Homo sapiens: one gene and its partners. The protein of the gene in region 1 interacts with the protein of each later gene in a pairwise test. Each region holds a gene or a part of one and is shown on either strand. Other genes may lie near its edges.

The links.
Region 2: the proteins of SART3 (region 1) and ZNF71 interact in binary tests that used the Homo sapiens proteins (3 or more experiments, as listed by UniProt).
Region 3: the proteins of SART3 (region 1) and MEGF10 interact in a two-hybrid assay, tested with the Homo sapiens proteins (one large-scale study listed by IntAct).

What each region holds. Positions count from the first base shown.
Region 1 is NC_000012.12:108,526,674-108,530,173, reverse strand, and holds part of SART3 (spliceosome associated factor 3, U4/U6 recycling protein), read left to right. Parts: coding exon 1-32; intron 33-3,500. UniProt on the Homo sapiens protein: U6 snRNP-binding protein that functions as a recycling factor of the splicing machinery. Promotes the initial reassembly of U4 and U6 snRNPs following their ejection from the spliceosome during its maturation.
Region 2 is NC_000019.10:56,598,302-56,601,801, forward strand, and holds part of ZNF71 (endothelial zinc finger protein induced by tumor necrosis factor alpha), read left to right. Parts: intron 1-3,205; 5' UTR 3,206-3,257; coding exon 3,258-3,290; intron 3,291-3,500. UniProt on the Homo sapiens protein: May be involved in transcriptional regulation.
Region 3 is NC_000005.10:127,433,796-127,437,295, forward strand, and holds part of MEGF10 (multiple epidermal growth factor-like domains protein 10 isoform a precursor), read left to right. Parts: intron 1-891; coding exon 892-1,026; intron 1,027-1,565; coding exon 1,566-1,694; intron 1,695-3,500. UniProt on the Homo sapiens protein: Membrane receptor involved in phagocytosis by macrophages and astrocytes of apoptotic cells. Receptor for C1q, an eat-me signal, that binds phosphatidylserine expressed on the surface of apoptotic cells. Cooperates with ABCA1 within the process of engulfment.

The sequences.
Region 1 (3,500 bases):
TGATGAGAAAGAGTGGGGCGATGATGAAGAAGGTAAGGAGCTCTTGAGAAATTGTGTTTTGAAACGTCTTAAAGTTAGAGAAGTTGCGAATACAGTATGAAGAACTTTCTTCCCTGAACCGTTACCAGCTTGATACCCATTACCCTTTGATCACTGTTAGGGTGTATGTCTTGCAAACAAGGGGCCCTCTTCTACATGACTAGAATGCAGCCATCAGAGCCGGGGTTAGCAATGAGCTATGGGTTCCCATTTATCCTGATAATGTCCTTTGTAGTGAAAGGATCCGGTTCAGGATGCACTATTGTGTTTAGTTGTCCTGTCTCCTGGATCTCCTTGAGTCTGGAGCACTCCTCAGCTTTTTTTTTTTACTCTGATGACCTGCAGTCTTGTAAGGGGGCAGGCCAGTTGCTGTGTTGTGCCCCTCAGCCTGGGTGTGTCTGATGCTCCCTAAGCATTGGATTCCACTCATGCATCTCGGGCAGGAATAGTGCACAAGTGCTCCTGTGGCCTGCCCATTGAGTCCCATCAGGTGGACTGTGATTCGCTTTGTTCCATCACTGGTGATGACCCTTTTGAGAATTATTTATGCTGATTCTCTACTTATCCCAGGTTTGGCTAGCAAGAGTTCCTTCACACAGGCTTCTATGTCCCTTTGACCTGTCCCCTTGTTCTTTGATCATTTCCTTACCTTCTAGCACACAATACCCAAGGGTCATCTTATACTTTCCATAACTCAGCCCTGGAATCCATCATTTCTCCAAGGTTCCTTTGAGTGATGAGTGGTATTTAGAAGGTGCTAGTTGTGCTCACTGCTGTTGGTTATTGTTCTGAGGCCTGAGTGGTCGAGGGTAGGGAGTGTGTGTGTGTGTGCGTGTGCGTGTGCATGTGTACACATATTTATGACCATATTTACTTGTGTAACTATTTGTATATACTGAAAGTCATGATTTCACACCAATACCTCCAGTTCCGGTCTAACACCACAGGGTTCCCCTTCACACTTGCAATGCCCTTCTCTCTCTTTTTAAAATTTATTTATTCATTTATTTTTGAGACAGAGTCTCGCTTTGTTGCCCAGGCTGGAGTGCAGTGGGGTGATCTTGGCTCACTTCAACCTCCGCTTCCCGGGTTCAAGTGATTCTTGTGCCTCAGCCTCTCAAGTAGCTGGGATTACAGGCATGCACCATCATACCTGGCTAATTTTTTGTATTTTTAGTAGAGATCAGGTTTCGCCATGTTGGCCAGGCTGGTCTTGAACTTGTGGCCTCAAGTGATCTGTCTGCCTCGGCCTCCCAAAGTGCTGGGATTACAGGTGTGAGCCACTGTGCCCAGCTGTGTCACGCCCTTCTCTGACCTTGAGAAACTTGGCTCCCTCTATTCTCAGCATCCTCAGTTACTCCACCCGGCCCCTGTAGGTATGTAATCAACTTCCTGTGCCTGCCTCCCCTTCTCATATGTGCCATCCCCACCCTGTTTGGTCTCCCACACCCGGGGCCAGGCACGGCCCTGCATGGACACCCTTGCTTCTTTCACTCAGGCTTCCAGATCTAGGCTGCTGGGTCCCTGTCACTGCCCCATGCCTGCCTGTCTTCTTCCTTCCATTCAGGCTCTAGCATCCCGCACCACTGCTGCAGCCCCAACCCTGCACAGACCTGCCAGGCTTGGCCCTACTTTTTTTTTTTTTTTTTTTTGAGAGGGAGTCTCGCTCTGTCGCCCAGGCTGGAGTGCAGTTGCGTGATCTCGGCTCACTGCAACCTCCGCCTCCTGGGTTCAAGTGATTCTCTTCCTTCAGCCTTCCAAGTAGCTGGGATTACACTTTGCCAGCCACCATGCCCAGCTAATTTTTGTATTTTAGTAGAGACGGGGTTTCACCATGTTAGCCAGGCTGGTCTTGAACTCCTGACCTCAAGTGATCCTCCCGCCTTGGCCTCCCAAAGTGCTGTTATTACAGGCATGAGACACTGCACCTGGCCTTGGCCCTGCTTTTAATGGTTCTGACTTAGTGGAATTTTCCAGCAGTGTTTCTTTCACCCTTGTAATTTCAGGGACGGGCAGCTCTGGGTCATATTTATTTCAGAGAGTCAGTCAAGGTAAAGAATTGTCTCTGGTGGCTGGGCGCGGTAGCTCATGCCTGTAATCCCAGCACTCTGGGAGGCTGAGGTGGGCGGATCACCTGAGGTCAGGGGTCAAGATCAACCTGGCCAACATGGTGAAAACCTGCCTCTACTAAAAATACAAAAATTAGTTGGCTGTGGTGGCGGGTGCCTGTTTTCCCAGCTACTCGGGAGGCTGAGACAGGAGAATTACTTGAGCCCGGGAGGCAGAGGTTGCAATGAGTAGAGATCATGCCGTTGCACTCCAGCCTGGGAGAGAGAGCAAGACACTGTCTCAAAAACAAAACAAAACAAAAAAAAGAATTGTCTCTGGACTTGAAAGGACTCTGTATACTTTCTTAATACAGATGTGTGAGCCAGAGAGAACTGGGAATGGAGTCATCCATCGTTGAGTTGACCTTGCTTGCACACCTTGTTTGGGCTTTCCTAAATGACTGAGGATGGCTCATTGCTCCACTGGCCTCCCAGTTTGGCAGAATAAGGCAAATGTGATGTGTGACCGCAGTGGTGTGTGATCAGGGCATGGCGTGTGATCAGGACTGTGGGAGATGGCATTGTTAATACTGGTGGAGGCCAAAGAAGGCACTAGTGGGTCAACTTCGTACCAGGAAGACTGTGGGGGAAGAGATGCGGCATCCAGGGGGAAGACCGAGTGACTGTGGCAGCGAGAAGGGAAGGTCTGAGCTACACAGGGAGGAGCCAATGTTAGTACAGCCTGAAGGCACAGCACAGCCTGGCATTTTCTGTGAGCAGCAGATAATTGGGTTTGAACTCAGATGCATTAGAGAGGGGTGGGGCAGTGGTCGAGGAGGCTGGAGTGGTAGGTGGGCCAGTCAGCTGGACCCAGCCCAGGGACACTCTTGAATACAGTAGCAGTGTGCAGGGCTTACGTTGCATTGGAAAGGCAGCGGGTGAACTGATGGGGAGGTCTGTTTGCCGGAGGCTGATGTCTGTTGAGCTTCAGTACTGGCCCTCTGGAGGCAGTGGTGAGGACAGACTGCAGTAGAAGATTGTGGTTAAGCTCTCTTAAGGACACAAGGCCATATTGAAAGTGTTTTAGAAACCACAGATCCTTTGTAGTGCTTTCCAAAATGTGCTCCCTGGGGCACGGGTATCAGTCACTAGGGTGCTTTTCCAGTGCAGATTCTCATGTCCTATCCCAACCCTGCTGATCTGGGCTTTGTAGGAGAGGGGCCCTGGAATTTGCCTTCTGAACTTTGAGATCCACTGACCTTTTGTATAATTAAGAGTGGACAATGGGGATTTATGTTATTACTTCCACTTGATTGAGCCCACTTACCCGAGTGTAATTGGGGCACAGAAAGTCGTGGGACAGGTCAGGCGGATCACAAAAGACTTCTCGGGGTGGTGCTTGCCCCTCCGAGT
Region 2 (3,500 bases), on another chromosome or scaffold:
CCTGGGGCCAAGCATGGGAGAGGGGAGTAGAGGAGATGGAAGGGGAGAGGCCATCAGGGGCACATCATAAGGGCTATGTGGGCAGCAGTGAAGACTTTGAGTGATTTCTAATGGTGGGGGAAGCCAACGAAGAGTTTTGAAGAGTTTTAGCCCAGAGGACATTTTCACTGAGTGATTACAGTTGGCCAGGTGTGGTGCCCGGGTACAGGCATTAAGTGGTAGGAACCCCCAGCCCACACCTTTGTGATCCTTTTGTTCTACAACAGGGCTTCTCAACCTCCACACTACTGACCTTTGGGCCTGATCATTCTTTGTTGTGGGGCCTGTCGCGTGCATCGTACAGTGTGTAGCAGCATCCCCAGTCTCTACCAACTAAACGCCCATAGCACTCCCCTGCCAAATTATGACAGTTTGGCAAATGTCTCTAGACGTTGACAAATGTCTCCGGGGGCAGAATTGTTCCCGATTGAGTTCCAAAGGCTTCTGCCAACTTGGCCTTATATATATGCCCCCCTACAATTAAAATTACTTTTCACTTGTGGAAGTTGGGGCCATTTGGCCTAAGAAAGGCTCTTCTTTGTCTTAGTGGTTCTTACGCTTTAAGACGTGTCAGAATCACCTGGGAAACTTGCTTAGAAATACCGATTCAGGGGCCCTACCCAGGTAGTTTGATTCAGAGGATCTGAGGTGGGGGGCAGGAATATATATTCTGAGTGAGATTTTAATAAGCATCCCCAGTGATTCTGGTACTTTGAGAATTGGTGCACCAGCTACAAGAGCATTGTGTTGGAGAGGATTGAGGCTTTTCTGGGTGATCTTGAAGGGTTGGAGATGTAGAGAGGCATGTTTCTGTTTATAGCAGAAGAAAAACTCATTTCCAGTCAGAGGTGTTGGTGGCACGGGTAGTGAGCCCCCATCACGGGAGAAGCCAGGACTGAGCCAGCATGTCTCAGACTCCAAGAATTTGTCCTCATCTGTGTCATGGATCCTATTTTTTTACTTTGCCATTTACTTGATTTGGCTCACTGATTTTTTTTTTGTTTTTAATTTAAATCAACTTAGTTTAAAAGGGTATTCTGTGTGACTGCTGTAAAAGAAGCTGAGTTTTGCTGTAAGAAGGGAAACAAACTTTAAAACAAATTGAAGTAAAGCCAGGTAGTTCTAATGAGATATTATGGTCACCCTAACTTTGGGGCCTGAACCCTGCTTTTCTTTTTAATTTTAATTTTTAATTTTTCTGGGTGTGTAGTGGGTTTATATATTTATGGAGTACATGAGATATTTTGATACGGGCATACAATGTGTAATAATCACATCAGGATAAATGGGGTATCTGTCACCTCAAGGATTTATCCTTTGTGTTACAAACAATCTGATTACATTTTTAGTGTTTTGTTTTTTTTTTTTTTTGAGATGGAGTCTCGCTCTGTCACCCAGGCTGGAGTGCAGTGTTGCCATCTCAGCTCACTGCAAGCTCCGCCTCCTGGGTTCATGCCATTCTCCTTCCTCAGCCTCCCGAGTAGCTGGGATTACAGGCACCTGCCACCACACCCGGCTAATTTTTTGTATTTTTGGTAGAGACGGGGTTTCACCGTGGTCTTGATCTCCTGACCTCGTGATCCGCCCGCCTCGGCCTCCCAAAGTGCTGGGATTACAGGCATGAGCCACTGCGCCCGGCCAGTTATTTTTAAATGTATCATTAAATTATTATTGATCATAGTCACCCTGTTGTGCTGTCAAATAGTAGGTCTTATTCATTCTTTGTGTGTGTGTTTTTTTGTTTTTTTGGGGTTTGTTTTTTTTTTTTTTTTTTGAGATGGAGTCTCGCTCTGTTGCCAGGCTGGAGTGCAGTGGTGCAATCTTGGCTCACTGCAACCCTCTGTATTTTTTTTTTTTTTTTTTTTTTTGAGACGGAGTCTCGCTCTGTCGCCCAGGTCGGACTGCGGACTGCAGTGGCGCAATCTCGGCTCACTGCAAGCTCCGCTTCCCGGGTTCACGCCATTCTCCTGCCTCAGCCTCCCGAGTAGCTGGGACTACAGGCGCCCGCCACCGCGCCCGGCTAATTTTTTGTATTTTTAGTAGAGACGGGGTTTCACCTTGTTAGCCAGGATGGTCTCGATCTCCTGACCTCATGATCCACCCGCCTCGGCCTCCCAAAGTGCTGGGATTACAGGCGTGAGCCACCGCGCCCGGCCCTCTGTATTTTTTTAATACCAATTAGCCATCCCCACATTCCCCCCACCCTTCCACTACCCTTCCCAGCCTCAGGTTTCTTCATCATTCTAGTCTCTATCTCCATGAGTTTGTTTTAATTTTTAGCTCACACAAGTGAGAACTTGCAAAGTTTGTCTTTCTATGCCTGGCTTATTTCACTTAACATAATGACCTCCAGTTTTATCCATGTTGTTGCAAATCACAGGATCTTATTCTCCTGCTTTTCTTTTGTTTCAAGGGGCGAGTGATGGGTTGCAGGGATGTTAAGATATCTCTCCACTTGAGACTTTATCCTGAGCTTGTCAGGAGAACTGGAGGAGAATTGAATCAAGATGCATTTCTCTAGGCGAATCTGGCTCTGAGAGCCCCTGGGTGGAAGTTCCTTACACTCATATCTGCTAGTTGAACCTCATGGTAACCCCATGAAGTCTGGGGGAAGTGCCCAAAGAGGCCACAGGTGGTTCTGGGGCATCTCAGGGGGCCTCAGTCCAGCACTCACACTCAAGGAGGGATCCGGGCAGGGCCATTGGGAGAAGGCAGGGTGTCCGGTGGCCCTCAGCAGCCTGCGGGAATGTGTGTGAGTGTATGTGTGTTAACCATATCTATAGGAGTGTACATGGGAGTGCATCTGTGAGGCATTGTAGCCTGGAGGCTAAGCTGTGGACCCAGACATACTCTGCCTGACTCCAGTCCCAGCTCTGTAATCTTGAGCAAGTGGTTTAATCTCCTCGGGCCTCAGCCTCCTCATCTGTGAAATGGGTAGGTAGAAGTAGTACCTACCTTCCAGGATGGTTGGAAGATCAAGTGATATACATTCAAGTTCCCTACATGCAGTAAGCCCTCTAAATACTCACTGTTGATGTATGTGTATGTGTGTCTATCTGTCTGTCTCTGCTTGTCTCTCAGTGGGTGTGTGTCTGTCCTGTCTACATTTGTGAGGCCAGCCTAGGCCTGGTCTCTCAGCATGCCTCCCTCTTTCTTCTCCCTACAGCACTGTTGGTCACCGCAGGCCTGTCTTCCTATTCACCGTGGGCAGCAGAGGGATGGCTGCTCAGCTGCTGACTGATGAGGCACTGGTGAGTCATGTTGCCCTGTCACTCTCCTTTCCAAAGGCTGGATCCTGCCTTGGGTGAGCCTCTGCTGCTCGAACCCTCTCCAAGGCCCCCAGTCCCATCTTCTGGGGCTGTGTCTGCCCTGATGAAGAGGGCTGTGCTTATAGATGATGCTGACCCTGGCTGTGGGGTCAGTTGTAGGGGACAGGGAAGCTTTGGAATGGCCAAACTAGC
Region 3 (3,500 bases), on another chromosome or scaffold:
TGAAAGCTTTGGAATGGTGTTCTAGAAATTCACTGACCTGTAAATATGTTATTCAGCAGTTTGGCATTGGCCTTACCTCAATTACCAGACGTCAACATCAGCCAAACCTTGAGGCAAATCATTCATCCTGCTAGTAGTCTTAAAATCAGTGCTATGGGGAAAATGGAATTGCAAAGTTGAAAAAGGAGACTGTTGACATTGGTCCTTAAGACTTCTGAGTTAGAAGATTAAGTAATCTTTTAGTAAATGCAATCAAAAAAGAATATGTAACTAATTATAAGTTATACTATTCTAATTTTTTAAATTGCCTTTCCCCCCATAAGAATTCTATGCAGTTATCATATATTTAAATCTGAATAGTATCTTGGCAAGAACTTAAGTATATAGCATTTTGGTTAATCACTTTTCGATTACAGTCATTAACCTGGACCATTTTGAGGAGGAAAAATCTTCAAATTTTGACTGTTGATCGATTTTTATTGCCAGAAACGACTCTTAAAGAATAAAGAATCAACAAATGGTTTGAGAGTACTTATTTGAGACTTATTAGTATTTCAATTTTTTTATCTCTTTATTTATTCAATGAAAATTCCTGGAGCCCTGCTTTATGCCAAGACTTGAGCTAACTGGGGCCTTAAATGGGAAAATAAAGAAGACTAAGACATTTGCTTGCTCTCAAGAAACTCAGAGTTTAGTGGCTTCTTTTCCTCATTAAAGGGTTCCTTTGTTCCTTTGTTGTTCTTGTTTTCTACTTGGAAAATTCTCCGTATCTTTTTTACTTTTTTTTAAGGTTTTGCTTTTTAACCTCTAAAACTTTAACTAGATCCCGATCTGGAATGCGAGACAAACGCATCTCAGAAGGATAACTGCTGATTTCCCTTCTGTTTTCAGTCTGCTCCCCTGGTTTTTATGGGCATCGCTGCAGCCAGACATGCCCACAGTGCGTTCACAGCAGCGGGCCCTGCCACCACATCACCGGCCTGTGTGACTGCTTGCCTGGCTTCACAGGCGCCCTCTGCAATGAAGGTAAGGCACGAAGCATCCCGGACAGCTGGGTGGTGATGAGCACGCCCCGGAGAGTCTGTCCTCAGGCCTCCCCTTGGCCTTCCTGAAGGCCATGTTTTCAGCTGTCTGCTGGGAATGTCTTCTGCTGTGCTGTGTCTGCAGCTTCTCAGATAGGACTTTGAGCTTTGGAAAAGCTGGCTTGCCACTCCAGCAAAACCTTTTTATTTCCTGAGATGTGCTACTCTTCAGTTTTAGCTGGACATGTCCTCCCATAAAAAATCAATATGCGGAAGAATTTTAGACTCCCAGAGCAAGAAGTCGTGAAGTCATATTTCTAGAAGTGCAATGATGTCCCCTGGTTTGTGATGCCTTAATGCAAATCTTTGGCTTCATGGATTTGTAAAAATGAGCCCATTCAAGATGAAGGATGCTGTTGAGCAGAGATAGCTACCAATGAGCAGCTGGGCCTGTGACCTTTAAAGTTATTTCCTGTGCTAAGATTCTAGGGTTCTGCGAGAGGGGTTTTGATTGTGAGTTACTGACCTATAGCTTATTCACAGTGTGTCCCAGTGGCAGATTTGGGAAAAACTGTGCAGGAATTTGTACCTGCACCAACAACGGAACCTGTAACCCCATTGACAGATCTTGTCAGTGTTACCCCGGTTGGATTGGCAGTGACTGCTCTCAACGTAAGTCTTGTTTGAGAACAATTAATAAACTGTTCTTATTTGTTTGTTTTCAGATTCTTTAGGATTGAAGTATGAGTGTTTTTATATAATCAAGAAAGAATATATGACTAATTAAAAGACACATTCTACTTTAAATTCTTTTTTTAAAATTCTTTTTTTTTTTCCCATTACGACCTCTATGCAATGGTCCTATGTTTAAATCCAAATAATGTCTTGGAAAGAACCTAAATATGTAACATTTTCCTTATCCCCTTTTCAGTGATTCATCGTCCATTGAAATAAAGCAAAAACAGCTGTATTGAGAAATCTATCTCTTCATTTTGTGTTTATCTGGAGAGTTAATTACAGAGAAAGAAAAAATGGAATTAAATGATGTGAGCCTTAGAAACCTATTGGGAACCTGAGCGAACTGCCCACCTAATATGCTTAGCTTCACCTTGGCATCACCCAAGTGCCTTCCACACCACTGGATTTCAGACAGGAATTGTGTGACCCTATAAGGGACTATATAGATGACTCTTAGAGCACCCATGTCATGAAAAAAATGACATCGACTATAAGTCATTCATGAATGTTTTGAAAGGGTCAGTGCAATGTCTAAAAGTATTCAACTTTTGACCAAAAAATAGCATATGTATGGAGTAATCTGGTTTCATTCATTTTAAATTTTATGAAACACTCTCAGTTTATATTGAATTCCCCCATCATGCACATAAGAGAAATCAAAGAATGACTGTGTGCAGTCATTTTACATGGTGCTTTATTGATAATTTAATTCAAACTTCACAGTTACAAGCAACCTGCAAATACTAATTGATGAGCAATATATTTTTTGCTGGAAGATTTTTTTCTGAATGTTAATTTTTTCCATAAGTAGTCCAGGCTGTACCCCATTTTTTAGGAATAAGGGAAGAGAGCTAATAAATCTCAGAAGTGTAGCTCTTTGGTGAAAGAAGTGTTATGCGATATGATTTCACTCCATTCTGGGGGCATCACTTCAGAAGAAATCAGTCTGTTTAAATCTACATGTGTTGCAAGGGCTCTGACTGATGGTTGGGCGTATGGGTTTGGGAAGAGTAAAAGGTCCAATATCATTGTCACAAAATGATTGATTTATATTGCTCCTTTAAAAAGTAGTCTTTATTTTGGAAATTTGTCCCTTCCTCATTTGGAGGAGGAATGTGCTGAAAGGAATAAAAATAGAAACACAACTATGAATGGAGACTATAGTGTTGCCTGTCCCAATAATCACTCCACAGGAAGCTGACTTATTTGGCAAAAGCCTTTGCTTCTCCTGGGGATCATTGATTTCATTGATTCCCTTATGGACTCTGTGGAACCATCTTCATATTTCTTCTTAGCTGATTGTGAGCCTGTCTAAAGAGAGCAAAGTCCTTCACAGTGAAAACACAGACTTTGAAAACTTAAAGGGGTACATTTAAAGGGGCAGGTGTCCTTGGGAAAATGATTTTTTAAAGCACTATCTCTACGTTTACCTTTTGGGAATATAAAGTTGAGTGATGCTTATTCCCATTCTCTGATCATAACAAATATAGGGAGAAAAACCTAATGGCAGTGGGTTACCTCAGAAAAATATATTGTGAACATAAATGGGTTTACAGAAGCTGGTTAAATATCATCTAAGGAATAGGTTGTTTTAGGTAAAGAGTGCTTCACTGAGCATCAAATGGGCTAGACGCTTCAACAGTTTTCACTGAGTCTCACTGTGGCTTTGGGAAAGCTGTATTTGTCTAACAAATAACAAATATTATTATTAATCTATGTGACCTTGTACGAGTCACTATT